Regions from separate parts of the Homo sapiens genome. Here region 2 is linked to region 1. The links come from fine-mapping of genetic effects on gene expression. A gene starts in region 1. The other region holds a variant in brackets. All regions are shown on one strand. Distances are from middle to middle.

Region 1 (16,029 bases):
TTTACCCACCCCCAGTCTATACTGATTAAAAAAGCAAGTTTCCAAATGATTAATCCATTCGTACATAAGGATGTTTGGCCATCTCCCTAAACCTGCCTGCTTGTCATCACTCCTTGTAACACCTGTTATCCTAGCACAGGATTGCAGCATCTATGCATTCCTAGCCATGTAGCAAGAGGGCTTGAGTGAAAGTGTTTTAAGTGGGAAAAAAAACCACTTTGTAATGCCTAGAATAAAAGAGTTACAACCAGATGGATACACTTAAATGTTTTATTTTAAATTGAATGGTATGCATTTATTCCAGTAAAATCAAACACCTTACAATACACTTAAATTCACTAGAAACTACTGTAACAGTGAGCAACTCCTGGGAAGGACAGTGCAAGGGGAGTCTGGGTGGGAAGAAGTCATTTTTTTTTTTTTTGCCTGTGTTTGTTTTTACTACTTGTTTCCCCATGCGTATTACTTTTTCCAAGTAGTTACAACGAATTACAAAAGATAAGAGCGTTAGCAATTCTCCAGTAGCATCAGTTTTGGGAGGTGGGGGCAAGTATTGATTTAATACAATATTATAGACTTAATTATAAAAATCACCATTTTCGGTAATATTTCATAATTTTAAAAGTTTGCCTTAAATAGAAAATGTATGCTTAATTGGAAGTCATAGTAAGTACAGAATATTCACATGTGGGCCTACGGAAAAGCAAGGGACTATGAAAATCTATAAAAATATAGTTATTTGATATTTGCATCAATTTGGTTTGATAATATATCAACTCAGATTTCTAGGTTACGCTTATTTCCCATTGTCTTTATGGAAACATAAGTTCAGCTGAAAATCCAAACTTAGGGCATTTGGGCTCAAAAGAGTTTACACCTCCACTGAAATAACGGCACAGTTTTTCACTCCCAATTCATGTCTATAACACAAATGGATATAACAGAAATCTTATGAAACACCCTTCAAAAGACTCTCAGCCTCCAGAGAGTAAGCTGATAGAATAACAAATCTCCTGAGGATCCTTTAGGGAAAAAATGCCTGTCAAACAGCACCTTCAGTACTTTGGTACTTTCTGGGGGAAAATGCTTTTATGATACTATTGTTTGGGAATTTATGCCTACATAAAATGAATTTAGTTTGGTCTCAATAGCTTTGATTTATTTCCCCAGAATTTATCATCTTAAAAAAAAAAAATCCCTGAAGTTGTTCTATCAGGTTACTGGGAAAGTTCACTATAGTACTTTAATTTAAAATACTAAAGAAAGTGGAATTAGCACATTGTATTGGCTAAAGCACTTAAGGTCTCTTAAGTAAGCTACATTAAGTGCATACCTTTAAATGCAGAAAAAATATATCCATTTCCTAAATCAATGGAGGTCAATATAATGGGTCAATATGAGGTTATTCATTTTCAAGGGATAAATAGAAACATACATTGCATATCCTAAAATAACGTTAAACCTTCAGTCTGTTTCCCAGTGAAGGACAGGACAGATTTTCTAAGAGATTGGACCACATCCAGTTTGGCCACCCAGCCGGAGTAAGAAATCTGCACTTGTTCAGTGTTCCCAGACCCACGTATTTTCTGTAAATACAGGCAATGTTACCAGAAACAATTTGGATCAACTGCAGAAAAAGAGTCATTCCTGATTTTTGTTGGTTATTAATTCTAGGTACTAGTCTTTTCTATTAGTAACTTTTCTTCCTACTACACGCCCCAAGTAATTAAGTAAAATGCCTAGAAGGCAGGTCTTGAGTTCTTCGTCTTGCAACACTAAGATTTATGAATCTAGTTGAGAAACTTGAGAGAGAAGGGGAGGGCGGCGGGAGGGGGTGTTGGGGGGTGGGAGGGGAAGGTGTGGGTGGGACAGACACAGAGGACTTATCTGTGCAACAGATAATCGGCTCCAAATAATTTTTTCAAAGTGCTCTATTTACCCGAGATTATTTGTTAGATGTTTTGTCGTGTAAGTTAATCAATACTTGTTGAATTGAGCAAGCAACTTCAGAAGGTTATATTCCAGGCGAAATATACACAGACTGACATTTCTTTTTCACTTTTCTTTCACTTAAAAATAGCTTTAAAATATTTGTTGACGCTTGTTACTTTTTACTACGCTCTATAGAAACAACCCGATAGTCTTCCATGGCAGGAGTAACCTCAAAAATGCGTCATGTCTAACTTTCAAAAGCAAAGCACAGTCATTAATGCACGGTTCAAGCAACCCAGAAGTCGATGTCGGATTACCACACCCCCTTCTAACAAATTACAAGACTTGGTTTGGTTACCTGAAAAGACTGTTGATTAACCAGGCTATAAACCAGGATGAAACCTTGGCCGTTTTTGATGTAGAGATCTCTCATGGAGGCAAACTGCTCAGTTCCTGCGGTGTCCAGAATTTCCAGCACGGAGGGGGAAGAGTCCACTTCGATCTCTTTGCGGTAGAAATCTTCAATGGTGGGGTCATATTTCTCAATGAAAGTCCCAGTGACAAACTGCACAGTAAGGGCAGATTTGCCAACCCCTCCACTCCCTAACACCACTACCTTGTATTCCCTCATGAGTCTCACCTTCACCAACTCCTACCAGAGGGGGGGAAAGATCACCCCGCTAGCTGTGGCGCGGCTAGACGAGGCGGAAGGTGGGCGGAAATCTGCGAACTGGGGAGGAGAGTGCAGAGGAGCAGAGGGCCCAACCGGGGAAGAAGAGGAAGTTACAGGAGGGGGAGGGGAAAGAGCGTAGAGTCGGGGAGGGTGGGGAAGGGATGGTAATGCCCTTCCTATAGGAACTGCAGCCCGAGCAGGGGGCGTGGGGAGGAGGGCGAGCCTGGGAAAAGCCCGGCGAGGGTGGCGAGGAGGCGCGTGCCCCCGGGAGGGAAAGGGTGGGGGCTGCGGCGAGGGGACCCTGCGGCGAGGCGGACGTCGGAGGAGCCCGCAGCCCGGGGCTGCCCGGCACTCCTCCCCCGCCCTTCACACAAAGGGGCCCAGGGACCCCGCTTCCTGCTCGCGCAGCCCAGCCGGCTCAGGCCTGAGGGCTCCGTTCCAGTTACCGCTGCCCGGGCGGGTTTCTGGGCCCCGGCTCCCGCGGGGGTCGTCCGGCCTGTGAAGGGGAGAAGGACGCACATTACCCGGCTGACCCCCGCCCCGAACCTGCGGCGCCGGCCGCCGCCTCCCCCAACTCCCACCCGGATCAAGCTACTGCCGCTTACCCCGCCGTCCGCACCCGCCCGGCCGCCGGGGAGGCTCTGTCACGCCAAGGCCATGGCCACCCGCTGGCTCCTCTGTCTCTCCGCTGCCCCAGCGCTGCTGCTCGCCGCGGGGAAAGAAGCGGGGGCCTTCCGCGGCGGCCGCAGGGACTCCAGGCGAACCCACCTCTTTTTTTTCTCACCCACCCCCCACCCCCACCCCCACCCCCACCCCCACCCCCACCAAGCACACACCCGGAAGGGTTTCCCTGACACACTGGCTGAGGTGCCCCAGTTCCCCGAGACTGGACGGGATCACTTCCGGTGGGGAAAGTCCCACCTCTTCGGGGCGAGCCGGGTGGCGCTGGAGCCGCGCCCTGCTGAGCGAGCGAGCCGGCCGGGGACGGTTTCGGGTCGGGACTCCGGCTTCGGGAACGGGCCTCTGGAAACCTGCGACGTCAGTCCTTACCCGCCCGCGGCTGCCGCGGACCGTCCCACCCCCAAACCCGTAGAAGCCCCTCCGACCTGCAACCTCCAGCCGCCCGGCCCTAGGACTTGAGCGGCTCCCTGGCCGGTGCGGAACCTGCGGGCTAATAATCTAGCGACCGGGAGAACGCCAAACATCCCTGGACTAGAAGTTGCAGGGGAAATCAAACAGCCCAGAAAGTTTATTCTCCTTGCTGGTATTTCTTCCACTTGCTATTTTGCTGAGAGATGCATGCAAACTACCCTTAGACTTTCAGATGCAGTGCGTTTTACTTAGCCGTGCCTGACAAACACACAGAACTTTTACCGTCTGGTAGATCCGCCTTGACTTTACCAGCGAATACTAAAGTCACTTAAAAAAAAATCACAAGGCTCGAAAACAGCAGCATTAGAAGTAGACTTTATGGTACTCTGCTCAGCTATGTTCTCATTTGATTCCAACCACTACACGGCAGAAAAGGTAACCAATATTCAAGAAAGATTTGATTGGAAACGGTTTAGGCCTAAAGACTAATTTATTTTAATCGTTGATTATGTATAACAATTTGCTTGGCTGGCTCTTACATGCTGAAGTTTTGTTTTAAAGGCCATCCTATGTAGTCTTTGAAATTCAAAAGCAAGTAGTAACTCTGGTGTTAGATTCTAAGTTTCTATTTTTAGATAAAATTGTTACTTCCGACTATCTTTCCCTTTGCTAGCTTTCTATTTGTAAACTTTGTGTCGGATCCACAGAGCCCCAGGGCCAGGAGTCTAGGCTGTATTTTAGGTGTGTCACTTTCTTTTCAATTCAAGCATGTACCCAGAAACCTGCGAGACTCAGTGGCCAGCCTAGCAAAAATGACTCCAAATTCCCTTACTTACAAGCCCTAAATGGCCAAACTCTATAAAGAGATTTATTACTCAGCCTAAATTGTTGGACATTAGAACACAGGCGAATCATAGTAGTGTGAGGTCCCACTGTCCCTCCCTGAGTATTCCCCAATGTCACTTACAGTCTTCAAAGGAGAGTTTAGTTCAATTTCTCCTTGACCTCAGGCCGGTGCCATCTCTCCAGCGAAGTCCCCAGCTCTGGCTCCAGCTGGCCTGGGCCCTGTGTCGTATCAGAGGCACTGCCCTCTGCTGGAAGGGGTTTGGTCTGTGAGTTATGAGTTTCCCCACAGGTCACTGCTCCTTTCACACGTGCTGTTGCCTGATTTGGAGCTCTGCTGCTCATCTCCCTGCCTAGCTGTCTCCAGACTGTCTGGTGGGATTCACAGCCCTCCACCAGCCGTGCTTGTAACTGAGTCTGGAAATTCCTCTTCTGATCCAGCCAGTGTTGAGCAATCGTGGCAAGTCTTTGCTCTATTACTAAACTGTCAAAGCAAGGAGTTCTTTTTCAGGTCATCCCACCTGTTGGCAATTCTAATATCTCTGAATGTGTTGGTCATGCTTAGGAGAGAGTTCTTTGTTTCTCCACGCAGTGAAACATACTCCTCCCCTCAGTACAGCGTCCTGTGGGGTCACTCTCGTCAACTACAGTGGACAAATATTACACTCAGTCTAAAGATCCTTCTAAACTTTCTTAGGAAGGGTATTCATTACAGCATTGATTAGGAAATCAAACAATTGGAAGAAGCTTAAATGTCCTTCAGTAGGTGATTTTTAAAAGTTTCATAGCTCTCTATATCTATTATCTATCATCTATCTATCTATCTACCAACCTACCTACCTACCTATCTGTATTCACAGAATAGGATATTATGCAGCTACTTTAAAAGAGAAAAGCAGATTTGTAAGTGTTTATATAAAAAGATGGCCAAGATATATTGTAGGGCTGAAAAAGCAAGATACTGAACAAATGTCTAGTTGCTACTGTTTATGTAAAACGCAGGTGTGTAATAGTTACATAGCCATTCAAATCTGAAACAAAGTAATTATGGGTGAGGACTATTATGAAATGGCTTTTATTTCTCCATATTTTAATTTATAAACAATAATTGGGAAAAAGGAAGTAAATATAACTTTATAATATTTTTAAAGGAGGAACAAAAGAAAGTTGTTGATCTTGGTTTTGTAAAAAAAAAAAAAAAAAATCCTGACTGTCTAGGGGTCAGTGGACAGGTCCGCCCAATTTAAACAAATTCCCTACCCTTGCTTGCCCTCCCCAAACATCTCTATACTTAGAAAAGTATTTTCACATACATTATCTCATTAGACTCCTGTTGTTTGCTAGTGTACTCTCATTAAGCAATGAGGGTATAAAGAGCAAGCAGAAGAGTGCGGCCTGGCAGTTGAGAGCTAAGGCTCTGAAATGAGACAGAGGTGCATTAAAATTGCAGCTCCGCCACATTCTAGCTCTGTGTCCCCAAGCAAGTGATTTCACTTGTCTGAGCCTCTAACTCCTCACTTGTAAAAAGGAGATAAGAAGTTAACGTGAAAATGTAATGAGGTATTACAGGTAAAGTGCTTAGCACAGTCCCTTGCACATTATAAAGCCTCAATAAATGCTATTTGGTTTTTATTTAAAAGATTTAATGAATTGTTAATTTTTAAAAAATAGCAAACATGGGGGTAACAAAATTTTAAAAGCTCAAATATCTGCAAGTGGCACGAAAATAATAATTCAGTTACTCTTCACAAAGATATTTATTGTTAAAAGCTTCTTATGTTTTTCAGGGGGGAACATTATTCATATGTCAGTGTATCAATCTACCTTCTATATATATTTTTAAAAATTACTGTACTACAAAAGTAATCAACTGTACACACTATTTTTTACCTTGCTTTTTAAACTTTAATTAATTAATTTTTTTAAGACAGTGTCTCCCTCTGTTACCCAAGCTGGAGGGCAGTAGCATGATCATAGCTCACTGCAGCCTCAACCTCCTGGACTCAAGGGATCCTCCCACCTCAGCCTCCCGAGTAGCTAGGACTACAGGTACATGCCACCACACACAGCTAATTTAATTTAATTTAATTTTTTTGGTAGAGATGGAGTCTTACTATGTTGCCCATGGTGGTCTCCAACTCCTGAGCTCAAGGGATCCTCCCGACTTGGCCTCCCAAAGTGCTGGGATTAAAGGCATGAGCCACCATGTCTGGCCTTCTTAATTTTTATTTCATGGCTGTATCATAAGCTAATTAGCCAGCTCCCCTTTGAAGGACACTGATTGCTTCTAGGTTTTTGCACTAAACGCCTTGGACATATATCATTGTCAGTTAATGTTTAGGGTGAATTTCTAGTAATTCAATAATTGAAACAAAAGGCACTTGCACTTAAAATTCTTCTGGTAAGTATTGCCAAATTGTCCTTCAGAAAGGTCACACCAATTCACATTCCCACCAATGCAGTATGACCGTATCATTTTATAACCTCACAGTAGGTATTACTAATTTTAGCATTTTATAGTGATTGTTACTTGCTTTAGGGTATTTTCAGGACTAACAAATGCAGGGCAGCGTTTTAGAAGGAATTTGGACTTCAGAGCCAGACAGTCCTAACACTGCCCTTTTGCAAGCTACACCTCCATTCCTTCATTTGTAAAGTTGGGCATAATAGCAGTATCTAACTCATAGAATAATAAATGAGAAATCCATTCAAAGCATTTAGCCTTCCAAATATTAATTGCTCAATAAATAGAAACTGCTCAAGTAATAATTTTCTACTCCAAAGGCTTGAATATGGGAAGAGGGGAATGGGAGGACTTCTCTAGAGATCATGCCCTTGAGATTCACAACTTTTGCTTTAATTCTGCATCAACCTCCTTTCCAAAGTATTGCTCAGGCATTATTTTAAAGAACACAACCCATTTTTACCATAGTGTGAAGAAACCACAGTGTATGCACTATATGCAGATAATATAAGTAATAGGGCCATAATCTCATTTTTTGAAATTAGTTTGGCACAAGTTTAAAGTGCTGGATGTTTGCTACAGGCACCAGTTGCTTACTTATCCCTTTCTTCTTTTCGAGTTGTTACCTCCTTCAGTTGCAATCCTTGGAGCCACCAACTGCCTGGGATATTTTACCCTAACTTCCACTCTCCAAATGAGCCGTCTTGCCTTCTAGGTCCTGGGAAAAAACCCATGGCTATCCATCTACTTTCTATACATGGCTATCTATTTTCCATCCAGGCTCTTCCCTTCTCTTTTGCTAGAAGTTGCTCTTGAATTACCAGAAAGCTTGAGCCAGTAATGTCCTCAGTCTTTGCCTACAGAAATCTTATTTCAATGCTTTAGGGACCCCATTGATATCAGCTAAATTGTCCTGGATTCTTTCTAGCTCCTACCCTCTAAGATTCCAATCTTCTCTTTCAAATCCTGCCTCCAGCTACACCAATCATTAGTTAATCATTAGTTCTGCATGTCAGGCTCCCCCAGTACACAAAACCAATTTTATACCTTTATTATTATCTTTTTTCTCATGAAAATAATGTTATTTGCAAAAAATTATAAAAGTATAATCCCACTACCTGGAGAAAATTGCTATTAACATTTTAGTGTCTTTCACAATTTTTTTTCTGGAGAGAGTTAAAGAACATTTTTTTTTTGTAAACTAATAATGGGTTCATATAAATTTGTGAATGGCTTCTTTCACTTACTGAAACATCATGTCTGCATAAAGCACTAAAAAATACTCATGTATCCCTCATCCCCTACATGAGTAAGCCTTTTTTCCTATAGCTTTAGCTTTCCTACAGCATCAATGAGAATTTAATCACATTCAATTTTGCTCACCTGGAATCCTTCATCCAATCAATGAGATTTCACTAGAGGTGCTGCTGACCACAGAGGACACTACCCCAACCTGGCCAGGCAGACACTCCTACAAAGTCACAAATTTGTGCGACTGCTGACAAAGTTAGTTTCTCAGAACTGAGAGGCGTACTAAATAGGGATGTGTTTAAAATAGATCTGAATTCCTTAACAATTTTTCCCTCTCCACTTCATCCTTGATTTGAAAGATAGTAGTTAGAAAATTATTTTGTAATCTATCAAGTACCAAATAAATTTAAAGAATTAGTACTAATAATAACTATACTCCCATACTCCTAATATATGTACATCAGAATCACCTGGAGGTGATGTGAACCACAGACGGCCAGGTCTCAACCCCAGAGTTTTTTATTCAGTAGGTCTGGGTCAGGATCTATAATTTGCATATCTAAGTTCCCAGATGACACTGTTGCTGCTGGCCCAGGGACCACATTTTAAGCACCACTGTTCTGTAAAGCGGTAGGACATTATTTGGGGCTTTCTTGCTTGATACTCATTAATGTATCCACTCATTCATTTATCACACAGTTATTGAATTCCTACTCTGTGCCAAGCACTTTACTAGCATTTTTGAGGAATATAGACAATACAATCAACATTACAGTATAGCGTGGCACATCCTGTGATACAGATATCGGCCAGGGTGTTATGGGAGACTTAGGAAGGGTATCAGGGAAGATTTCCTAGAGAAGGTGATTGGGCAGTAGGCAAGGAGGCCAGAAGAATCGGTAGGGGCTAGAACCATAGGGGAAAGCCTTGAGTAGTAAGCTAAGGGGTTTGACTTTTCCCCTGGAGGCTGTAGGAAGCCATGGAATGTGTTTTTACAAAGGTCTTAATTGCGGTATACAAAATCAGGGGCTAGCGACATCCATGCCAGGTTCAACCATTGGCTGTGCTGCATATGTAGCCTGAGGCAAGTTACTTCTTACCTTCTCTGAGCTTCTCTTTCATCATGTGTGAAGGGAAAATATTAATAGATCTACCTTATTTGGGTATTGTGAAGATTAAGTAAGAAAAAGTGCCTAAGTACCCATCATATGGTAGGTGTTTAACAAATGGTGATTATGATCAGGTTTAAGCCATAGAAAGAAATGACATGTAAGACATGCTTCTCAGGTTATTAAAATCCATTTGAAATTGCCAAGCTAGTCTCAATATCAAGGCCATATTTGATGTGAAGATTAAGTAAGAAAAAGTGCCTAAGTACCCACCATACGGTAGGTGTTTAACAAATGGTGTTTATGATCAGGTTTAAACCATAGAAAGAAATGACGTGTAAGACAGGCTTCTCAGATTATTAAAATCCATTTGAAATTGCCAAGCTAGTCTCAATATCAAGGCCATATTTGATGTGGTGGCAAGTCGGATGATTTAATCATGTAATGATAATAGTTTATCTTGTCTTTTGTTTTGTTTTGTTTTGGAGACAGAGTTGCTCTGTCATCCAGGCTGGAGTGCAGTGGTGCGATCTCAGCTCACTGCAACCTCCGCCTCCTGGGTTCAAGCGATTCTCCTGCCTCAGCTTCCCCAGTAGCTGGGGCTACAGGTGCATGCCAGAATCCCTGGTAATTTGTTGTTGTTGTTGTATTTTTTAGTAGAGATGGGGTTTCACCATATTGCCCAGGCTGGCCTCGAACTTCTGCGCTCAGGCAATCTACTTGCCTCAGCCTCCCAAAGTGCTAGGATTACAGGCTTGAGCCACCACACCCAGCCTGATGATAATTTCTTGATTACAGATTATTTGCGAGGCACTGTGCAAAGTGATTTATGCACATCATTTCATTTAATCCTAGCAATAACCTTAAGAGTTAGGTATTATTATTCCCAATTTTACAAACAAAGGAATTAAGGCTCAAAGAAGTTAGTTTGTACATAGTCGAACAGTTGGGTAGTGGTAGAGTTTGAATTCAAACCTAAGTTAGTCTGAGCCTATCTTATATTAGCCACCTTGTTCCACAGAAAGCAGTTTTGTTTCTTTGAAGGACAGGGCAGCGAATGGGCAGTGAGGCAAGGTTAAAGAATCTAGACTTTATTACCCTGTTTCTCTGCCCTCGAGTAAGACTGACTGTTCATACTGATTTCAAGTGCCCTCTGGAAACATGCCTCTATAACCTCCCAGGGGCCCCTTGACCTTGGATCTGTGGCACCTGGTACTGAACCTGAGGTGGTCATAGTTACTTTCCAAAGTGCTCTGGAACATTTACAACAAGGAGCCCCCTTGTTTTGACACTAGGACAATATTAGACTCTGTAAGAGGAGGCATTGGGGTAAGCCTAGTTATTTTTAATGCTGCTATTACTACTATTGTTTATTGAGCACTTGCCACATGTCAGAAATTCTGTACTTCAATCCTTACAGCAACCCTATAAGGCAAGCACATTGTCATCATCATCTCTAGTTTAGAGATGAGGAAACTGAGGCTCACACAACTAAGTTCACACAGCCGGTAGATGCAGATTCAAGCAGAAAACTCGTTCATTCATTTTTACAAACCTTGCATTTTCATTTCTTCCTTTGCCTCTGTACCTATAACACCTTCAAACACAGATGTAATCCTCCTGAATTCTTTTACTGCCCACAAGTTTTATTTACCACATAGTTTAAGCCCTATTTTTAATGATGTATATACAAATCGTGTTTCTCCTCAAAATTATTTCATGCCATAAAAAGTCACTCTTCCCTCCCTTTATTTACAAATTCATTCCTCTTTAGAAATGAGCACTTATAATAATTACATGCAAGGCCAAATTTTTACTGTTTAGTGTAAACCCATAATGTGAAATTGAGAATGGTTGAAAAGCACGGTTATGAAAACATCGTGGACTCCAGACTCATCCCATACAATTTCCAAGGGGAATTTATTCTAAGTACTTTAAAACTTACAAAGAGTTGAATTCTGAACTACTTGGGCCTCTATGCACTCTTAGCAATTCCCCCAGCAGGGAACCAAAAATGAGAATAGAAAGAAATTGCCTCAACATTGAATTCTTAGACATTTAGAAGGCCTGGAGTCTGAATACTTTAAAAGGCTGTTATTTAAATGTGGGAAATGATGTGAAAAGTATAATGTAAAGATAAGATAAATATTGTTTGCTAAAATAAATCATCGGGTTTTTTTTTGTCAAATTCATGGCAATTTTAAAATCCTGTTAATTCTATTTATTTTTTTCTTATTTGGAGCAGGTAGCTGAATATGCAGAGTTCTGGCACTAGGTGTCAGCAAAAGATTAAACTAAAAACACCCACTTTGGGTTTTTTTCTTTTCTTTTTTCTTTCTACACATATATATTTGAGACAGGGTCTCACTCTGTCACCCAGGCTTTAGTGCGGTGGCATGATCATAGCTCACTGCAGCCTCGAACTCCCTGGGCTCAGGTGATCCTCCCAACTCAGCCTCCGGAGTAGCTGGGACTACAGCCATGTGCCACCATGCCCAGCTAATTTTTTGTATTTTTTTTTTTTTTTGTAGAAATGGGGTATTGCTATGTTGCCTGGGCTGGTCTCAAACTCCTTGGCTTAAGCAATCCTCCTGCCTTGGCCTCCCGAAGTGCTGGGATTACAGTCATGAGCCACCATGCCCGGCCTAATCTTCCATATATTTCAAACTTTATAAAAATAAAAATAAAATACATAGTCTGGATTTTAAAAAGAAGAGACAACACACTTCCTTGTTGCCATGACAACGTCAGCATGAGAGAGGCTGGGTTGCTGCTGCTCAAGTAGGCACCTTACAGAGATCCTCATGGCTCAAGGAATTCAATGTAAGACCGTTTGACCTTTAGCATTGAATGGCTGGGGACTCAATTTTGTGTCAGCTAGAAAGCTGGGGAATGAGAAGTTTGGAGGGTTGGATGGGGTGGTGAGGTACACTCCTGTAAACCAGATCTTAAAAGTCTAAATATTAAATTATTTTACATAGAAATGTAGTGTTCAAGCCAACCACAGTGCTTGTGCAGACAAATTCAGTGGATGCTTTTCCCACATGACAAGATTAACAAAATTAACTTAGAGGCTAGCTTTGAGAACCCAGGCTGATCCTAAGGGTTTCTCAAACTTACTATGTTAATTTTAGCATATCATAGGGTTTTTTTTTCCTTTTAATATCCAGAGCTTTCCCCCCTTCTTGTGATTCCTGTCACAGTAAATGGTGTTACCATCCAGCAGTCATTGAAAGTAGAACTTAGGGTATTGTTTTAGGTCATTCTTGTGTTGCTAGAAAGAAATACCTAAGGCTGGGTAATTTATAAAGAAGAGGTTTAACTGGGTCAAGGTTCTGCAGGCTGTACAGGATACATGGCATGTGCATCTGCTGGCTTCTAGGGAGGCCTTGGGGAGCTTTTACTTATGGTGGAAGGTCAAGCAGGAGCAGGCAGGTCACACGGGGAAAGCAGGAGCAAGAGGAAAAGAGCAGGAGGTGCCACACACTCTTACACAACCAGATCTTGCAACAACTGACTCACTATAGCAAGGACAGCACCAAGCCATGAAAGATCTGCCCCCATGATCCAATCACATTCCACCAGGCCCCACCTCCAACACTGGGGATTACGTTTCCACATGAGATTTGATGGGGACACAGATCCAAACCATATAAAATATCACTCTTAACTCTTCCTTTATCCTCATTTCCTATAACCAAACAACCCATTAAGTCCTGCCAAGTCTACCTCCTTAGTCTTTCTTACATCCGTCATATCCTATGTCTGCTCTAGTGTGTAGAGGGACTGGAGAAACATTTGTGTGACAACTCTTTCCTGAATGCTGTAATAGCCTCCTAAATCGTTTGTATGTCTCTGGTGTTTTCTGCATACTTTTACCAGTGTTATGAAACAAGTCTGTTTGAAACAAGTCTAACTACATATTTCTGCTGATTTCAACAACTCTCTATCAGAAAAAGCCCAAGTTTATACGCATGAAATATAAGGTCTTCTATATTCTTATTCCTGCCTACCTTCCAAGCACATCTCCCACCTTCACATCCTTTATGTTCTAGTACAAATAAAATCATCATGGTTTCAGTGAATTTGCACCCAGTCTTATGGCTTTAAATACCATCTTACATACTGCAGACTCCCAAATTTACATCTCCAGTTCAGACTGCTCCCATAGTTCTAGATCAGGGGTCCACGACCTCTGGGCCATGGGCCGGTACCGGTCTGTGGCCTGTTAGGAACTGGGTCACACAGCAGGAGGTGACTTGTGGGTGAGGAAGCATTACCGCCTGAGCTCTGCCTCCTATCAGATCAGCAGCGGCATTAGATTCTCATAGGAGCATGAACCCTATTGTGAACAGCGCATGCGAAGGATCTAGGTTGTATGCCCCTTATGAGAATCTAACTGCCTGATGATTTGACATGGAACAGTTTCATGCTGAAACCATCCCCTGCTGTCGCCCCCCACCTCCCCACCCTCTATGGAAAAAATTGTCTTCCACAAAACCAGTCCCTGGTGCCAAAAAGGTTGGGGACCGCTACTCTAGATTCATACTTATACTATAGTTCCATTTGTATTACTCAGACATCTCAGATTTAACATGTCCAATGCTGAATCTTGATAACCACCTCTCCTCAGAAATGAACACATGCCTCTCCTGCAGTCAGTCTTCCTTTCTTTCTCTTTCTTTTTCTTTCTTTCTCTCTCTTTCTTTCTTTCTCTCTCTCTTCCCTCCCTCCCTCCCTCCCTCCCTCCCTCCCTCCCTCCCTCCCTCCTTCCTTCCTTCCTTCCTTCCTCTCTCTCTCTCTCACTCTCTCTGTCTCTCAGACAAGATCTTGCTCTGTTGCCCAGGAAGGAGTACAATGGTGCAATCATGGCTTACTGTAGCCTTAACCTCCTGGGCTCAAGCAATCCTCCCACCTCTGCCTCCTGAATAGCTGGGACTACAGGCAAGCGTCACCATACCCGGCTAATTTGTGTATGTTTTGTAGAGATGAGGTCTCATTTTGTTGCCCAGACTGGTCTCGTACTCCTGGGCTCAAGCAGTCCTCCTGCTTGCACCTTCTGAAGTGTTGGGATTACAGGCATGAGCCACCATTCCCAGCCTCCCTTCTGCAGTCTTAAAAATCTCAGTAAATGGCAACTCCAGCTTCCAGTTGCACAGACTACACTCTTCCAGTCATCCTAGAGTCTTCTTTTCCCCTTATGCCATACAATCCAACCCATCTGGAGATACTGAAGTTCTTATCTTCATAATATGTCCAAAATGTGACTATTTCTTACCACACCCACTGCTAAGAATCTGGCCCAAACCACCATTTTCACTTTTCTGGATGATTATTGTATTCTTCTAATTGCTCTTGCTGTTTGTGAACTTAGCCTCCTTCAATCTATTCTCAACGCAGTAGCCAAACTGATCCCATTATAGCCACAAAATCCTACAGTAATTTCTCATCTCACTCAGAGCAAAGTCAAAGTCCTTACAATAATCTAAAAAGCACTACATAATCTGGCTCTTCATAAATGATAGATATACTCTTACACTAGCCTCTGTACTTGCTGTGCCATCTAGAACGTTCTTCCCCCAGATTCTCAGTTTCCTTCCTTTCTTCAGCTGTTTTACTCAAGAGCTCCTACTCTGTGTAACATTGCACCCCCTCCTCATGCAATACCTTCAAGTCTTATTTATTTTTTTCTCATTAGCACTTACACTTTTCTAATGTACTATGTTCTTTAGGGATTTTAATATGTTTCCCCTATTACAATGTAAACTCCACAAGGATGGGTACTTTTGTAAATTTTGTTCACTGAATATCCCATGGTCTAGAAAAGTGCCTGCAACGTGGTAGGTGTTAAATAGTGATGATGTTATTAAACTGTTTACACAGTTCTGTACATATTTTATTTGCATATGCCTTATATATTACCTCTGCCCAGAGGGCTTTCCCCTATCTTCATTTTTCCCCGCTATGGATTGGCAGCATTCTTTTTTCTTAAAAAAATCAGCTTTATTGAAATATAATTTACACACCACATAATTCATCCACTTAAGGGGTACAATTCAATGATAGTATTATGTTACAGAGTTACGCAACCATCACCACATTTTTTTTCTTCAAATTCTATTTTAAGTTCTGGGGTACATGTGCAGCATGTGCAGGTTTGTTACATAGGTAAACATGTGCCATGGTGGTTTGCTGCACAGATCATCCCACCACCTAGGTATTAAGCCCCGCATCCATTAGCTATTCTTCCTGATGCTCTCCCTACCCCCACCTTCCCCTCTGAGAGGCCCCAGTGTGTGCGTCACCACAATTTTAGAACATTTTTATCACTTCAAAAAGAAGCCAGGTACTCTAGCTATTGTCTCTCTATCTCCATTCCTGCAGCCCTAACCAACCACTAATCTACTTTCTGTCTCTCTAGATTTGCCTCTTCTGGACATTTCATATAAATGGAATCATATAATATGTGGTTTTTTGTGACTAGCTTGTTTCACTTAGCATAATGTTTCTAAGCTTCATCCATGTGATAGCATATATCAGTACTTCATTCCTTTTCATGGCCAAATAATATTATATTATATTATATTATATTGATATACCACATTTTGTTTATCCATTTGTCAGTTGATGTGCAATTGGGTTGCTTCCACCTTTTGACTATTATG
Region 2 (16,029 bases), 170 kb after region 1:
TTCCAATCTTGGGCATTTACCATTGTGTCAAAAAAAAAAAAAAATGGAAAAAAAAAACTGCTGTACTCTCAATGGTTAGAATTTTCAATTTATTCCTAAGAGACTATATGCTCATTCTTAAACTACTAAACCACTGGAAGAAAATTAGTTTCCCCCCAATATATGATATCTAATTGAACAAATTTCTGGCTTAACATTTTCTGTTCAATTTCATGTAAAACAGGCTATTAAATATAGCTGAATGTAGGAGATAACAAAATATGCTGCAAAATGTCAGAAAATATAAACTGCTATGTATTTTATATTAACTGATTCAGGAGTTACAGGCTAAAACTATCTGTTTAATCTATATTATACTATATTATGCACTTAGGGTAGTTTTATTTTAACTACCTTTGGCATATCAAAGACATATTGACAACGCATTTCCATAATATCGAAGCTGGGAGTTTTTGCCTTTTTATTTGACAGCACTCTACTGTCTGTGACAGTGATACCTAAGAGTCAAGGAATTAGTTTGAGACTGAACCAAGTGAATTAATCATAAGCAAAAACCAACAAATGCTAAAAAGAAAAATGTTGATACTTTTTCCTAGTTTGATTTCAAACCATGAATTTTCATGAATTATAGAAAAACAAGTAGTTCTAGATACTAGCAGATAAGCATAACTTCCTTGTTTTATTTTTAATCAAAATACATGTCGACAGTCCTCCTATACAAGCTCTTTGAAAGCTGTTTTGCATTGTATACATTCACAACATCACCAAACTCGCTGCAGTGCCTAGAGCTGTGTTCTCACCTGCAGGGATAAATGCCGGCTGTGGGAGCTGCAGGTTAGTCAGAGCCTGTTGGCAGTGGAAAACAGTGGGATTAAAGACCGGGGTGGCACCATTGGGCTTTTCCAGTGCTGATCTCTTTGGTATCAGTTGCAGTGTACCAGGCTGCAGGGCCTGTGGGGGGAGAGATGGTACTAGTACTAGAGAAAGTAACAAATGTACTCAAACCAAGCAAGCACCAGTCATATAAGGTATTTCCTGGGAATCCTCCGTAAGGGTATGCATTGGGCAAGACACTGGATAAGCAGTGGCCCCACAGCAAGGTAACCAAATGTAGAGATAAGGGGGTTCACAGCCGTGTACAGTGGCTCACGCCTGTAATCCCAGCACTTTGGGAGGCTGAGACCAGCAGATTGTTTGAGCTTAGGAGTTTGAGACCAGCCCGGGCAATATGGCAAAACCCCATCTCTGAAAAAATAGAAAAAGTAGCCAGGCATGGTGGTGCATGCCTGTGGTCCCAGCTACTTGGGAGGCTGAGACAGGAGGATTGCTTGAGCCCAGGACGTCAAGACTGCAGTGAGCTGAGACCACACCACTGCACTCCAGCCTGAGTGACAGAGCAAGAGCCTGTCTCAAGAAAAAAAAAAAAAAAAAAAGAGGTAGTCCAACTACATGAGCAGTAGTGCAAAACAAAAAAAAATGCAAAAAAAAAAAAAGGTTTTCAACTTCACTAATTTAGACCTCATTTGGGCAGGATATGACAGAAAGCTACTACAGTAAACAATCATTTATAATTAATATCTCAGGGATACTCATCTATGAATCTATAAAAATGAGATTAGCAGAAGCAACAGATATAGCAGGAAAGAGATTTCTGCCTGTTAAAACTCCAATACAGATCTAGGACATAAATGGCATATAGGTGATAAAACAGATGTTGGTAGATCAGAGTCTGACACTGTCACCCCATAAAATAAAATCCAGTTTATACAAAGACTTCAGGTTCAAGTCCTATAATTATATATTTCCTAACTAACATGTAAGGAAAAAGCAAATGAATATTTCCTCCCCCACGACCTACCTCACGCAGGTACTATGTAGATAGTTAGCAAAATATATGCAGTTCTTATTTATAGAGGCTTGCTGTCCATTTCGGTATGTACCATTTGCTTTGTTAAGTTCTTGTAAGGTTTAATTCTAAAACCTATTAGCATTTTTAAACCATCCTTTCATGTCTACAGTTCTTTCAAAATCCCACTGTGCTTATAATACTCCGTGAAACTTGCCCCTGGATCAGATTCTTTGGAGAAGTTTAACATTACTTTACATTTTTTTTTTCTCAGCAAATTGCACGTTACTTAAAAAACATGTCCCAGCAACAACAATTAGGTATGCTCCAAATTCTTAAGGAAACAGGAATGCTTGTGTTGAGTAACTATCCTACCATGTGTCCAAAAGGGTAATGCCATGACCTCGTTCCTGTGGATAACAAAGGTCTCAAGGTATCTCTATTTTCTTTTGGGAACTCTACTGTCAGTGCACACACTGTGACAGATCTGCTTTTCATTTCACCTAAATAAAGAAAAGCATGCTAGAAGAGTGAGATAAAATAAACTGAGTAGCTTTAGAGATATAAAATTTCCAAATTTATCCCAGCAGACCAGATGGCAAAGGTCAGTACTAAAATCATAAACCATAAAACAAAATCTATCATTTCGAATGCCTTTTATTACCATTGGGAGAAAATGGTTTTGCTGAACATTTTAACTAAGACAGAAGACCTACTTATCTGGTTGTTAAAAAGATTTCCCTTTGGTATAAACGGGGAGTGTCCCCTTCTCTCTCTTGAAAGTTGGCAGCATGGTATGATCATCAGAACCAGTTATGTTCCCTAGTAAACTACAAATTGGGGTGAAACCTAGATGAACATTCAACAGGTAGACGCTGGTAAGGTAGTACTGCTTGTTTATTTATGGCTGGGGTTTATCCTGATGGGTCAGTGCCCAGTTCCAATTGGGTGGTGATTGTACTATTAAACTCATAAACCTGCCGAAGAGGTGTGAGACTGTGGATGAACTAAGTATCAACCCTTTATGTCTCTCTCTTTTTTTTTTTAAATACAAGCTGCTTTCTGTGAACTCAACCTGAGCTATATACATGAACAAGGTAAAAATGTCTCTTTTATAAAGCATGTCCACTATGAATCCTTAAAAATATAAAAAGCTTGAATTTCTTCATGAAGCCCTCCTTTATTTAATCTTACCTCTATCAAATTCTTATGAGCCAACTTGATCTCACTGCTAAGACCCTGCTGTGATCAGTTACTTAAAAGGGAATTTTATATTGATATTCACAAGTAACAATTGAAGGCCTATGATATAATATTTAGCTCTCTACGTGGAAATTTGAGGCTGACTTGTAACCTATGCATTCTATCAAACACACTCAAATAATCAGAAATGGACAGATGCATATGAAGCTATTTTCATAGCTTATAATTACCCCTTCAAAAGCATTTAAGACAAAAAGAATTTGGTAAAGTCTTTTTTAACATTCATTAACAGATTATGTTGTTCAGATCAAGGGAGAAAGTAAGTTTGTTCTACTTTGGTGCTCAGATCCTTCACGATGTAATGAGTTCAGTTCTGACAAAAAGTGGAGCCAGTCCAAAAATGGTACTGTGTCCTTGAAACCATAAACTACCAGGAAAAGGGAGCAATTTGCAGTATTTGGCTTAGACAGGAGACATGAGAGTCACTCTCACTTGGAATAGGGACTGACTTCTTTTGTGAAGTTCCAGTTGCAGCAAGATAAATTTCAACTCGGTATGAGGAAAACCTTCTTAATAGGGATGTTTGAAAATAAGTGTCTCTCTGTTGTGAATAGGCAAAGTCTCTGTCATGGGAGTCCAAACTATGAATGTTTGTGAGGAGATTTAGCTCACAGTGCATCTCCTGGGCTTCAGGGTCATGTCAGTGCTTTTTCCACACCCAGGGAACATGAGGTTTCCTGTGGGTTTTGTCCTTTACTGGGGCTGTTATGCCTTATTACACAAGGAAAGGTCCAGGGAGAAAAAGAAAGACATAGCAAGCAGCACATCAAAACAACGGACAGCTGTGGCAAACTTAAGTCACGAGAATTCCTGGTTCTCAGTGATCACACTGCAGTGTTACACAAATATTTTTCCTGCTTCCTACCTTTCAGTATTACTAAGCAGCACTAACTGTTCCCCCAAAACTGGCTTTCTACAGCAACTTAAAAGTCAGGACTCTGGGCTGCGCACGGTAGCTCATGCCTGTAATCCCAGCACTTTGGGAGGTTGAGGCAGGAGGATCACCTGAGATCAGAAGTTCAAGACCAGCCTGGCCAACATGGTGAAACCCGGCCTCTATAAAAACTACAAAAATTAGCCAGAAGCAGTGGTGCACGCCTCTAGTCCCAGCTACTCAGGAGGCTAAGGCTAGAGAATTGCTTGAACCTGGGAGGCGGAGGTTACAGTGAGCTGAGATCACGCCACTGCACCCTAGCCTGGGCAACAGAGTGAGACTCCATCTCAAAACAAACAACAACAACAAAAAACACACAACCACCCCCACAAAACAAAACAAAACAAAACAACAACAACAACAAAAAAAAAAAAAAAAAAAAAAAAAACCAAAGTCAGGCCTCTGCTCCCAACCACGTAGAAATTTCCCCCCAGACTAAGCAGGCTGCTGTCCTTGATACTATGCCTCTAGAGAGGAAAAGTGGCCTTAACCTTTAGGAAATTACAACCTACTTAATACCCTATCTTTTAAGTGCTGTGTTTTTGAAAGGCATTAAGGATGTTAGTAGCAAAGGGCCCATGAAAGTGGCTCACAGAGCAGAGGCAACTTTCTGCCTCTCTAGGATATTGAGGGTAGTGAAACTATAAAAGCACTCAAAAATAACTTACTGTTTAAATTATATAATTTACCCTTACTCTGAAAATGGGAGAAAGAGCACAGTAGGTTAAAAGCATTAGTAAGGCTTTTAAATAATTATCTTTAGAAAATCTTAGTAAATAAAGTAGAATAAATAGGTTCTTTCTTTTCCAGCTTATAACCTTGACTGTTCATATTAAGGTCCTCTCATGACCATCCATGAGTATGGTTACAGGATATTAGACAAATTGAGGAATATACAAAGCATTTACTCTGAAACAGGCCACAAGTGCAGGCCTTTTCTTACCATGGCAGAGGCAGCTGAATGGTTCATCTGATGATGAGCTGCCTTGAGTCTGGCTTGCAAGTGTGCAGGAGGATGAAAGTACTTGCATTTCTCCCGCGAGCATCGACCTTTGATGTAATCCATGCAGATTGTCACAGTATTATCACTCGCTTCAATCATGGAAGCATCAGTAGGGTGAGCATAGCGGCAATCATTCTCCCCACGGGTACAATTTCCACGCTGAAATTCTCGGCAAACCTTAGAACACACACATGCACATACACACGCATCACACTGATGACTGGAAGCTGACTGGCTTTTATTTATTTTGCTAGTGAATGTAACAGTAATTATATATACATTGAATATATTATGTGTGAACAAATCTAAAAAGATAAAGAATAATGTAAAGCCATATTCACTATGAGATATAAACAGACAGAATTTCTATTCCCAGAAAAAAATTCTATTCTCCCCAAAAGGAGGTTGTCCTTACATTGAAATAAAAATGTTTAAAAAAGTATTACTGAAAACCAGTTTTAATTCTCCAGTTAATACACAGCCTTAAGCATAATTAGTGTTTTTTTAAGTCCAAGATGAGTCTTTATCACACCATAATGCACTGGTTTTCCAAAGTCAACTTGTGAACCATAACTGAGTTATATGTACAATCAGATTATATTACAATACATTACTAGGCATTTAAGCGGCTGCAAATGGAGCTGACTTTGTAAGGAAAGACTAGTTATTTCAATGTACAAAGAATAACAATAGAAGAATGAAGGACTTCAATAAATCAAAAAGCTGTTTGAAATTTCTTTCAGATTTTCTTTTCTTAGGCATCGGGGTTATTTACTGCCTAGCACATCACTCTCAAAATGGAGAAAAAAGTTGAGGCACTATGAGACTAATTTACCTTCTGTGTTCATATAGCTTTACATTCTGCAATCGTAGAGAGTTATATTGTCTACTTTTTTCCCACTTTGATTATTCTAGCAAGTAGAGACTCATTAACAAATATAGTAATCTGTTTCTGAAAGCTGGAGCCTAGGTAAAAGGAACATTCCCACAGAGGCTTCCTGTGCCATCGCACAGTCTATGGCTGGGTACACTTAACATATTGTTTGACCTACCATACAGGTGAATCAATGCACTTTATAACAAGGTATGATTGCAGTACTAAAATGTTTAACAACCCTATAAGCTAAGAAATTTGGGTTCTCTTATTTAAAACAACACACTGGGCTCTGAGAATACTGCTTTATGTGTAAGGTTAATATCTATTCTACAGGTATTTATATATATGTTCACAAATACCTCCAGTTTATCTGAACGCATCAGTTTTGGGCCAACAGCTCCTGGCATTGCAAGAGGTGGGTTTCCAGGAATCAGAACAGGTGTATTTGGTACAAGTTCTGCAGGAACGAGGCCCATCCCAGGATGTGGTATGTAAGGATTGAAAGCCATGGGAGGATTAGCTGGAATTGATGGAGTCATAGGAAAAGAACCCTGTATGTTTAAAAGAGAAAAAAAGATGTTAGAGGTAAAGATTCTTCCTGTCATTACACAAAGAGGTATTCTTTCAGAAACATCAAAATTACTTATGCCACATCAAAATTTACTATTGTTTTCTTCTGATTTATTTTTAGCCTCATACTAATTCCCATAGAGGAGTTGCTTTTAAACCAACAAATCTCTTTACGTACTAACTTTATTGGTAAGCTCATAAAATAAGCCACATGATTTTAACAGTCATGAATTATCCAAATTAAATCTCACTGCTAGTCTGTTCCAAATGTGTTTCCTCCAACTCTTTCTTTATTCCCTAAAAACCATGTCACCAATGACATTACACATATGGACAATCTTCTTTGTTTCCTTACACAGGCATGGCCTTTGCATTCAGTCCCTTTCCTTCCTCTTTCCTCTTCACCATCAATACTGCTTGGCTGTAAGGCTGCCTGTCCTACCACAGGCCCCACCTGTACTACCAAATACTGGCTGTGCTTCTGTCTTCCTGGCCCACTGACAATTATGGAACACAGCAAGGAGTTGAGGAAGAAAGTGATAAATTAGAAAAAGTGAGTGCTTTAATATCTACCTAAAATGAGTTTAGTATGGTCCATTATATTTTGTTATTTTTTTAAATCAGAGGTCCTGTTTTTTAAATTTTTATGTGTACATAGTAGGTATCTATATTTATAGGGTACATGAGATATTTTGATACAGGCATAC[T/C]GTGTGTAATAATCACATCAGGGTAAATGGAGTATCTATCACCTCAAGCATTTATCATTCCTTGGTGTCACAAACACTCTAATTATACTCTTTTAGTTATTTTTAAGTGTACAAGAAATTATTGTTTACTGTAGTCATCCTAGAGGTCCTGTTTCACAAGCTAATCTGACTTGCCTAGCCTTGTCTTTATCCAGGGGGCCAGATGATATTCATAGTTCAAAAGAAGGCACTAGAAATGCTACAAGAATCCCTGTTAGGCAGGAAGAGATAAGATAACAGGATTATATGGTACACAAACTAGAGTAACTTGTAAAAAAAAAAAAAACCTCAGAAATGCAAAAAGCTATTACTGCTTTTTCTATTTTCAAAGATCCTGGATTCAAAAAGTTTAATATGTGTATTTCCTTTATTATCTGTTGCCATATTATTTATCACTTTGCTGTTTTCCAGTTTGTTCCACATGTGGGTATCTTTTCTTGTCAATGTGGTTTTATTCCTTTGATAGTTCTCATCTCCCCTATAGTACCCAACACTTAGTGAATGACTGGTTGACAGATATACTCAATGATACATTTTAAAAGCTTAATGAATGAATAATAAATCATGACTAAATGTAGTATATTTCTAATAATGACTCTACAAGTTAGTTATTGTGAAACTGGTGGTGTCTCATTGTGTATTACTAATTGCATGTGTTCCTTCTTGCTTTATAAAATTTTTTCACTTGAAAAAACCCCCGAATCTGTTGCATTTGCCAAACTGTGCCCATACCTGCTAAGTCACATTAATAGAAACAAGTCTAAATACAAATTGTGGAATATAAAGTGAAGGGCAATGTATACTCATTGCCTCACCCCCACACAGACTTGAAATTGTCACCCACACAGCATTCCAAGAAGACTCTGTTATAAACCATATTCAGCTTAGAAGGAAGCACTCCCCCATTAGCATTCTACCTTAGATGAGTTTATCAAATTAGCTGATTGGGACATTAGGAAGGGCAGAAAGAATCTGGCACCAAAAAACTGGCAAGACTCACGAGGGTGAGTAGGAAAGACATGGTTGCCAAGAGCCTTAAGTGGAAAGGGAACGCCAGGTGCCAGGAAAGATGATGGTGTAGTCAGGAGAAGGACTCTAAAGTCTGGGGGCAAATAGCCAAGGGCTGACCCAGTCTAACTAGCTCTTATGATGTAATAGACTACAGGAATACGGGATACTTGTCATGGAATGAGATGTGAAGCTCAGGAACTAGCTGATGTGACATGATTTTATATAATGAGAAGGAAATCTTCTGGAAACAGCCACCCAGGCATGCTTCCGCAATAAGGCAGACTTTATCAATGTAATGATTCATAGTTGTCTCAAGATCACCAAGAATCTCTGATGAGAAAGAGTCCATTTTTGAAGCACACGATAGTGCTCTTCACTTGACTTTTCGTTGTCTCTGACTTTCCTGGTAAATTTCTCACTGAAGCCACCAGCCCATTCTCCTGCATACTTTTTGCTCTTGCCTTTTACAAAAATGAGCAGGACCATTATTGTATCTATTAATTTTTGAACTGAAAGAAAGACCTGGAGGTGGGTGAATTTTCCAGATTAAAAAGTTATTAATCACTAATAAATGCTGATCAATCAACAATATTGAAGCCTAATGTATTTGAAAGCAATGCTTTCTGTTTATGGTAGCTTTTTACTTCTGTAATTTTTTTCTTTTCTTTTTTGAGGTGACTCACCAGGGAAATTCTCCTAGCTAAGTTCTGCTTTCTTTGGAATACTTTTAAACTTTCTTAGGTTTGTTATATGCTCCAAGTGTATGGAAAAAAAGGCTATAAATTAATGATTGGTCTACATATAAAATGTAAAGGGCTTACTGAAAGTATTTAGATTTTTCTAAGGTTTCACCACAAACTATGCTATCTTTAGATCTTAAAATTAGTATCCTAGCTCTTATAACTATTTCCTCCTTGAGTATGAAATGCATTCTATAACACTGTTTATTGAGAAGAAGCAAGCTATCCCATTCTCAATACTGGGGCAGAGGCAGGAACTCCTGAGTGGCTTATTTATTTTCAGTTGGACATTTCTGTTTTCTCACCACCACCTCTGCCCCAGGGTAACTACTCCATTTCATGAATTTGAACATTCAAGGGCTTAGCGTTGACTAACAGCCATGGGTTAAGTCAAGCAGCCTGCAAGCTCAGAAGCTCAGCTTTAATAAGCAACTTTAATCCTGTCTCTATATATATCTCAGCCCTTGATGTCAGTTGAGCTAACATGAACCTATCTGTGGGTTAATTTTTATTGTAAAGGAAAAGGTTTTAACTATACTGACTCTGATTTATCTTTACAGCCTGAAATGGTCTGAACACTTAAATGTTTCAGATATTTAAATTCCAACCTAAATTATTTACTAAATACTTGAAAAGAGACGGCTGTCCCTCCCATAACCAGGTGTAAATTTTCATCTTTCTGAGTGTTGTCAACCAGCAAGAATGGTGGTGGCAACAGACTTTATGAATAAGATCACCTGACAACTATTTATCCCCATGTCTCTAGCAGTATTAGCTCCTACAGTAGAAATTCCCATGAGTTCCCAGTGACTTGCAGATTGCTTAGGAACTATCAGACACTCAGGAAATGTGTCCTAAAAATTAACGAAATATCTAGACAACACTGGCTCCTAATCTTTTTTGAGTCCAGGACTTCTCCAAGAGTCAGATAAAGGCTGCAGACTCTGTCCACAGAAAAATTCATGTATGCAAAAAATGTTGCTTGTGATCTCAGCAAGTTCAAGGACCCCACGACACTCACCCCTGGTGTGGGGTTATGAACTACTTACTGGTTAAGAATCTCTGTTCTAGAGTAAGGCTCTGCAAACTAGGGCCCATAAGCCAAATTCAGCCTGCCTGTGTTTTTGTATGGCCAGCAATCTAAGAATGTTTTTTACAGTTTTAAATGATTGAAAAAAATAAGAGAATAATATTTAGTGAAACATGAAAATTATAGGAAACTCTTATTCCAGTGTCCATCCACAAATTTCATTGTGCTCATTAGTAGAGCTGTATTACAAAAAATTGTAGATATTTGTTTCCTCTCTTGTTATATAAGTACCTATATAATACCCTCAACTTTGCATCTTGAACCTCACAGCCTAAAATATTTATATTTAGCCATTCACAAGAAAGTTCACCGACCTTGGTTCTAAATGATTTCAAAAAATGAAATTCTCCAACGCTTTCAGGAGTAAAGCACCAAATATATATTCATATATATTCATATATATTCATATATATATATTCCTATATATATTCATATATATTCATATATATATTCCTATATATATTCATATATATTCCTATATATATATTCCTATATATATTCATATATATTCCTATATATATATTCCTATATATATTCATATATATTCCTATATATATTCCTATATATATTCATATATATTCATATATATATTCATATATATATTCCTATATATTCCTATATATATTCCTATATATATTCCTATATATATTCCTATATATATTCCTATATATATTCATATATATATTCATATATATTCACATATATATATTCACATATATATTCACATATATATATTCATATATATATATTCATATATATATTCATATATATATTCATATATATTCATATATATATTCATATATATATATATTCATATATATATTCATATATACATATATATATTCATATATATATTCATATATATTCATATATACATATATATATTCATATATATATTCATATATACATATATATTCATATATATATTCATATATACATATATATTCATATATATATTCATATATACATATATACATATATATTCATATATACATTCATATATATATTCATATATATTCATATATATATGAATATATATGAATATATATGTATATGAATTTAGTATTTGTAGCAAGATTCCACAAATTGAAAATGTTTGGCTTTGTAAACCAATACTAAGGTATTCACTAAAATGTTCTTTTACATAGTTACTAATATTAGGATTAGGATTTTTAACTATTTGTTTATAGAACAATCACTACTCCGTGACTAAGAATGGGGAAATAGTAGTTGGAATCCTGTAAAGGTAAAAATTTTAAAAGCCACCACAGATTGCTCTTAAAGGATTCTGAGGCAATGCAATTCAATGCAAAACTATGCCTCAAATAAATGTCTAGTTTACACACACTTTAGGAACAGTGACTTAACAGGTTATTTCTCAAGCTAGTATAAATAAATGAAAATTAAATGTTATGCCAAATCAATCTTTGTGTCTCCTCAATAGCCTAGATCTATTTGTAGTTACCTCAAAAATATCCAAGATCAATTACAATTATTGTTGGATGAATGTAAAATATTTCAAAATCCTGGCCTAAGGTCAACAGAATAATCGGGGCCTTCCATCTCTGAGTTCCTGTCTAGAGTTGAATGACTAGATATTTTCTTTTACAGAAGGGTAAACATTTGGTAACAATTTGTTGACCCAATTTTAATACAAGAAAAATAGCACTCATAAATTTTACTAGCGTCATAATATCTTCATTTTATTGCTCATTTGCAAGCATTTATATAATATAAAAGGAAGGCTCTTTTTACGGTCATCATGCATATTTCTATCTTTAGATAATCCCAAAATGCACTGAAATCCATAATTTTAGTTTCCATCAGACTTCACTTTCACACAGAGTACAATTGAATAATCTCTCTTTCACAGTATTTGCTTGGTCATTTCCACACTCCTTGAGTAATGTTCCGTGGGGACTGAAGTGGCCAAAATGCAGGCTGCAGGAGACCCACATAACCTCCAGACTAGTTAATTAGTTTCTCAATAATTGAGAGTTAACTTTAAAAACAGATGCAAGCTGATAGTGGTGTTTAAGTACTAATCGTACTTGTTAATGAATAAGTCCCCATGGCTCTAGAGAGAGCTAAGAAAAAAAAAGTTCATGGGTCAAAAGTGAACCATTGTCCTCACCTAGACCTGGATTTTCTGATCTTATTAATCAGAGAATTCTCCAAGTAAGAGGAACCATTGAAGGCAGGCAGGTTAGTTGAAAGATCAATAGGTGATTGTGAGTATAAGAGGTATAAAGAATAACACAAATGAGAACACAAGTCATGGTTCAGAGCTACCCATATTTGCTGGGAGGAGAAATACAACAGCAGGCCAGGAATCATAAAGGAGTACCTAAACACAGATCAGCACATCACCTAGGAAGAGAGCAAATGATTGACACTTATAAGCAGGGTAACTTTGACATTGTTCCTGAGGAGGTGAACAGGAATTGACCTAAAAATTTGTTGGTGACCACCGTGTAATAATAATGGCAATTCAATTAACTTTAGTATTCTAGTAGGAAACAAAGATTATTTTTTAAAAAATCAAGTTTGTGGCATGGATTGTAGTAATAGTATCATGAGCATCTGTTTGTCTCCAAAGTCATCAATTTGTATACATTGAACATGTGCAGCTTTTGTGTGTCAATCATACCTCATTGAAGTAGTTCAAAGAATTAAGTGGTTATCTAGTTTTAACAAAGGGTATAAACAAAATGTGGGTTTTTGGGAGATAAATAGGAAGAACTGAGCAAAGCAAGGAACCCACAGGAAACCTGGAGACTATTTATGAACATGTCAGTGAAAGTTAGATAAATAGGTAGGCTAAGAGTTTAAAATTATCAAGGGTTTGACCAACCACAACCACCACCACCACCACCATCAAAACAACACAAACCAAAACAGAACCTTGCATGGCTAATAGAAAGATAATTCTATGTTGAAAAAAGAAAGGCCCAAAGCTACAAAAATATGAAGAATCAGGTACAAATCAGAAATTAAGGGGACCAGAAAATATTCATCCAACATCTTACTTTTGTTACATAACGAATTCCTAGAGGGTAGAGTTTGTTTCTTGATCATCTTTTTATCCACCCTTTACTCATTTAAATACCTGTCACAGAGTATATGCTCAATACTTACTGAATTCAATAAAAAGGGATTCCTAAACCATTAATTAATTTTTGATTTACTAAATAGATCAACCCAATTTAAAAATCAGAGTGCAAAAAGAAGTAAAAGTAGTTTCAAAAATGGTGGCAAAGAAATTGAATAAATCCTTCAGTCTTGTTCTCCACTGAGGAAGACTTTAGGCAGATGGCTAGTCCTAAGCTGTCTTTTGATAAAGATATGAATTGCTAGATCAAACAGTATGAAAAGCACAGGGTATTTTATACATACATATGTACATATGTACATACATGAATCCCATATGTGTATGTATTTTTAAAATTGGAGTGGCTAAATCCATACTAGAAGGTACCTAATTAAGAGTTCTAAAAAAAAGTGATTTAGTGATACTATAGATAAAAATATGTAACTTTATTACAAAGTGTATAAAAAGTAATTTTTTATACACTTTGTAATACACAAAGTAATTCACACCTTTTTATACACAAAGTAATTCACAATGTGTATAATCCAGGTGATTAATGAATTGCTAATGTGACTGGTATCCAGAGTGGTTCAAGAGAGAAGACCACGGAAAGAAGGGTGTAAATGAATATTTAACAGATGATTACAGGATATTAAGGCAAATTAGAAATGCTTGGGGGTACCACTTTAATTATCAGGTGGTAGGGCAGCCACAGGTTTTTATATAAGGTCTCCTCTCATTGACAAATTACTGAGCCATACCAACCTGCAGGTAAAAAAAAAAAAAAAAATTCACAGAGCCCACCAAACTCCCAGCCTTCACCTCATTTGTGATCAACAGCAAGCAATCTCAAGGTAGCTGGCTGTAGCTTACACTGTGACCACGAACAGTGAAGCTCACAGGCCACCATGGTCTCATTAGCACCAGGCTCCAACTAACTGAGCTAACCAGCCCCAGAGGAGAAGGACACAAAATAGAGGAGGTTACATGTAATTTATCTCACGGGAATATATAAAGGATGATAAAGGGAGAATGTTGAGATTTGTGACTATCAAAGAAACTGGACACTATAGAAGATATACCTAATGCTAAATGATGAGTTAATGGGTGCAGCACACCAGCATGGCACATGTATACATATGTAACTAACCTGCACATTGTGCACATGTACCCTAAAACTTAAAGTATAATAATAATAAAATAAAATAAAGAAGATATCATGTACAAGTGTCCTCTGTTTGGCTGCAAAAGTGTAGCATTTTCATTCAACTTTTGAAAAAAGCAGATTTCACAGTGTCTATTAACAGAGATGGGGCAAAGCAGCAAAGGGACTGCTAGGGGATTTATTTTGTTTTAACGTAAAAGAAGCTTTAAGCTATGTGACATACACAGTCTTATTAGCAAAAGGCCCGAATAACTACTCTACTTTGGACCAGTAATTGCAATGAGGAGCAAATCTAGGATATGTGGGGTCTGAAGCTTAGACCACTGGGTGGGGAAGTGGAGCCTTAAGAATGAAACACACGAATATATTTTGCAAATTTTACAAACACATTTTAAACACGTTGCTAGGACCCCTCTCAGGGTTTTGGAAGGAAACCATGCAAATGAGCATCCCTAAACCCCTCATGTTAGTCTCAGGGTAAGTACACCTTAAAAACAATGTTAGTTGAACAAACAGATTACAGTAGGCTTCAGTTGATATACCTAAAAGTAAAATTTTGTCTAATCTTTCAGAAAATGTAGTAAAATCCAGATGATCATGGCATGGTAGCACTCCAGGCACTTCTGTGATATGATTTGGTCAACCTCAATGCGGAAGTTCACATGATCATGACTGTTGTAATTATATTAAGAGCATATTAACCTTATAATTACATAATGCTTGTCTTTCCTAACTTGAAAATTTTGCAAAAATCATTTACAAAACATGTAATGTCACCACATCAAGATGAAAGAACTAAATGCCATCATTCATCATTACATGAGTAGGTGAACTGAAAAACCTGCTGCAGAACCTTCATTAAAATGTTATAATTTCTGTACTGACCATGAGACTGGTAATTTAGAATATGGACATAATTTTCTTTTCTATTAAACCTACATAATGTCTGGGTCACCTTTTAAAATAATAATTGTTAATAAAAGAGCCATGACAAAACTACTCTTTTTTATAGCATAAATATTTCAGTCAATAAACTAAATTTATGTGAACTAAAAAACTGTAAGTCTAATATGAATATTTGTCCTCTTGTTTTCAAGTACTATATCATTTAATGACTGACTTACAAAAATTAAAAAGTAGGCCAGGCATGCCAGCACTTTGGGAGGTCAAGGCAGGAGGATTGCTTGAGGCTGGGAAATCAGTACCAGACTGGGCAACATAGTGAGATCACATTTCTATTTCTATTCAAAAAATTTTTAAAAAACATTACTGTGCATGGTGATGTGCACCTGTAGTCCCAGCTACTCAGGAGGATGGGGCAGGATGATGACTTGACCCCACAAGTCTGCAGCTACATTGAGCTATGATCATGCCACTGCACTCCAGCCTGGTCCACAGAGTGATACCGTGTCTCAAAAAAAAAAAAAAATTAAAAAGTAAATAAATATTTTCCAATTTTATCTCCAGTCACTTAAAATTGTTCTAGTCCTAAGTTTATAAGTAATATAAACCCAAGTAATATAATACATTGTAGCCCTTTAGTAAAAGAGAAAAAAACAACATTAAAAACATGAGTCTAAAAATAATATTCATTAATTAGTATATCTCCCTTCCTCGTACCTATTTGAACTTTCTATTATTTTTTTTCTCTTGGTTCTGAAGCATTACATCACCTTCGTTCCTTACTATATTA

Evidence for each region.
Region 2: its variant is fine-mapped to the expression of RAP2C in whole blood (TOPMed, PIP 0.96).

What each region holds. Positions count from the first base shown.
Region 1 is chrX:132,214,706-132,230,734 of GRCh38, forward strand. It overlaps RAP2C (RAP2C, member of RAS oncogene family), which reads right to left and starts at 4,742. Exons shown (of 6, transcript NM_001271186.2): 1 at 4,665-4,742; 2 at 3,527-3,636; 3 at 3,211-3,307; 4 at 2,291-3,101. The coding sequence starts at 2,563. It overlaps RAP2C-AS1 (RAP2C antisense RNA 1), which reads left to right and starts at 3,802. Exons shown (of 3, transcript NR_110410.1): 1 at 3,802-4,132. RefSeq lists silencers at 2,732-3,171, 3,182-3,231 and enhancers at 4,664-4,733, 5,064-5,113, 9,048-9,577.
Region 2 is chrX:132,385,861-132,401,889 of GRCh38, forward strand. It overlaps MBNL3 (muscleblind like splicing regulator 3), which reads right to left. Exons shown (of 9, transcript NM_001386889.1): 4 at 6,283-6,474; 5 at 4,987-5,223; 6 at 801-951. All of the region lies in intron 2 of RAP2C-AS1 (RAP2C antisense RNA 1), which reads left to right. Among named protein-coding and RNA genes, the nearest start is that of MBNL3, 95 kb to the right of the region's middle. The variant T/C (reference allele first, on the strand shown) is at 7,201.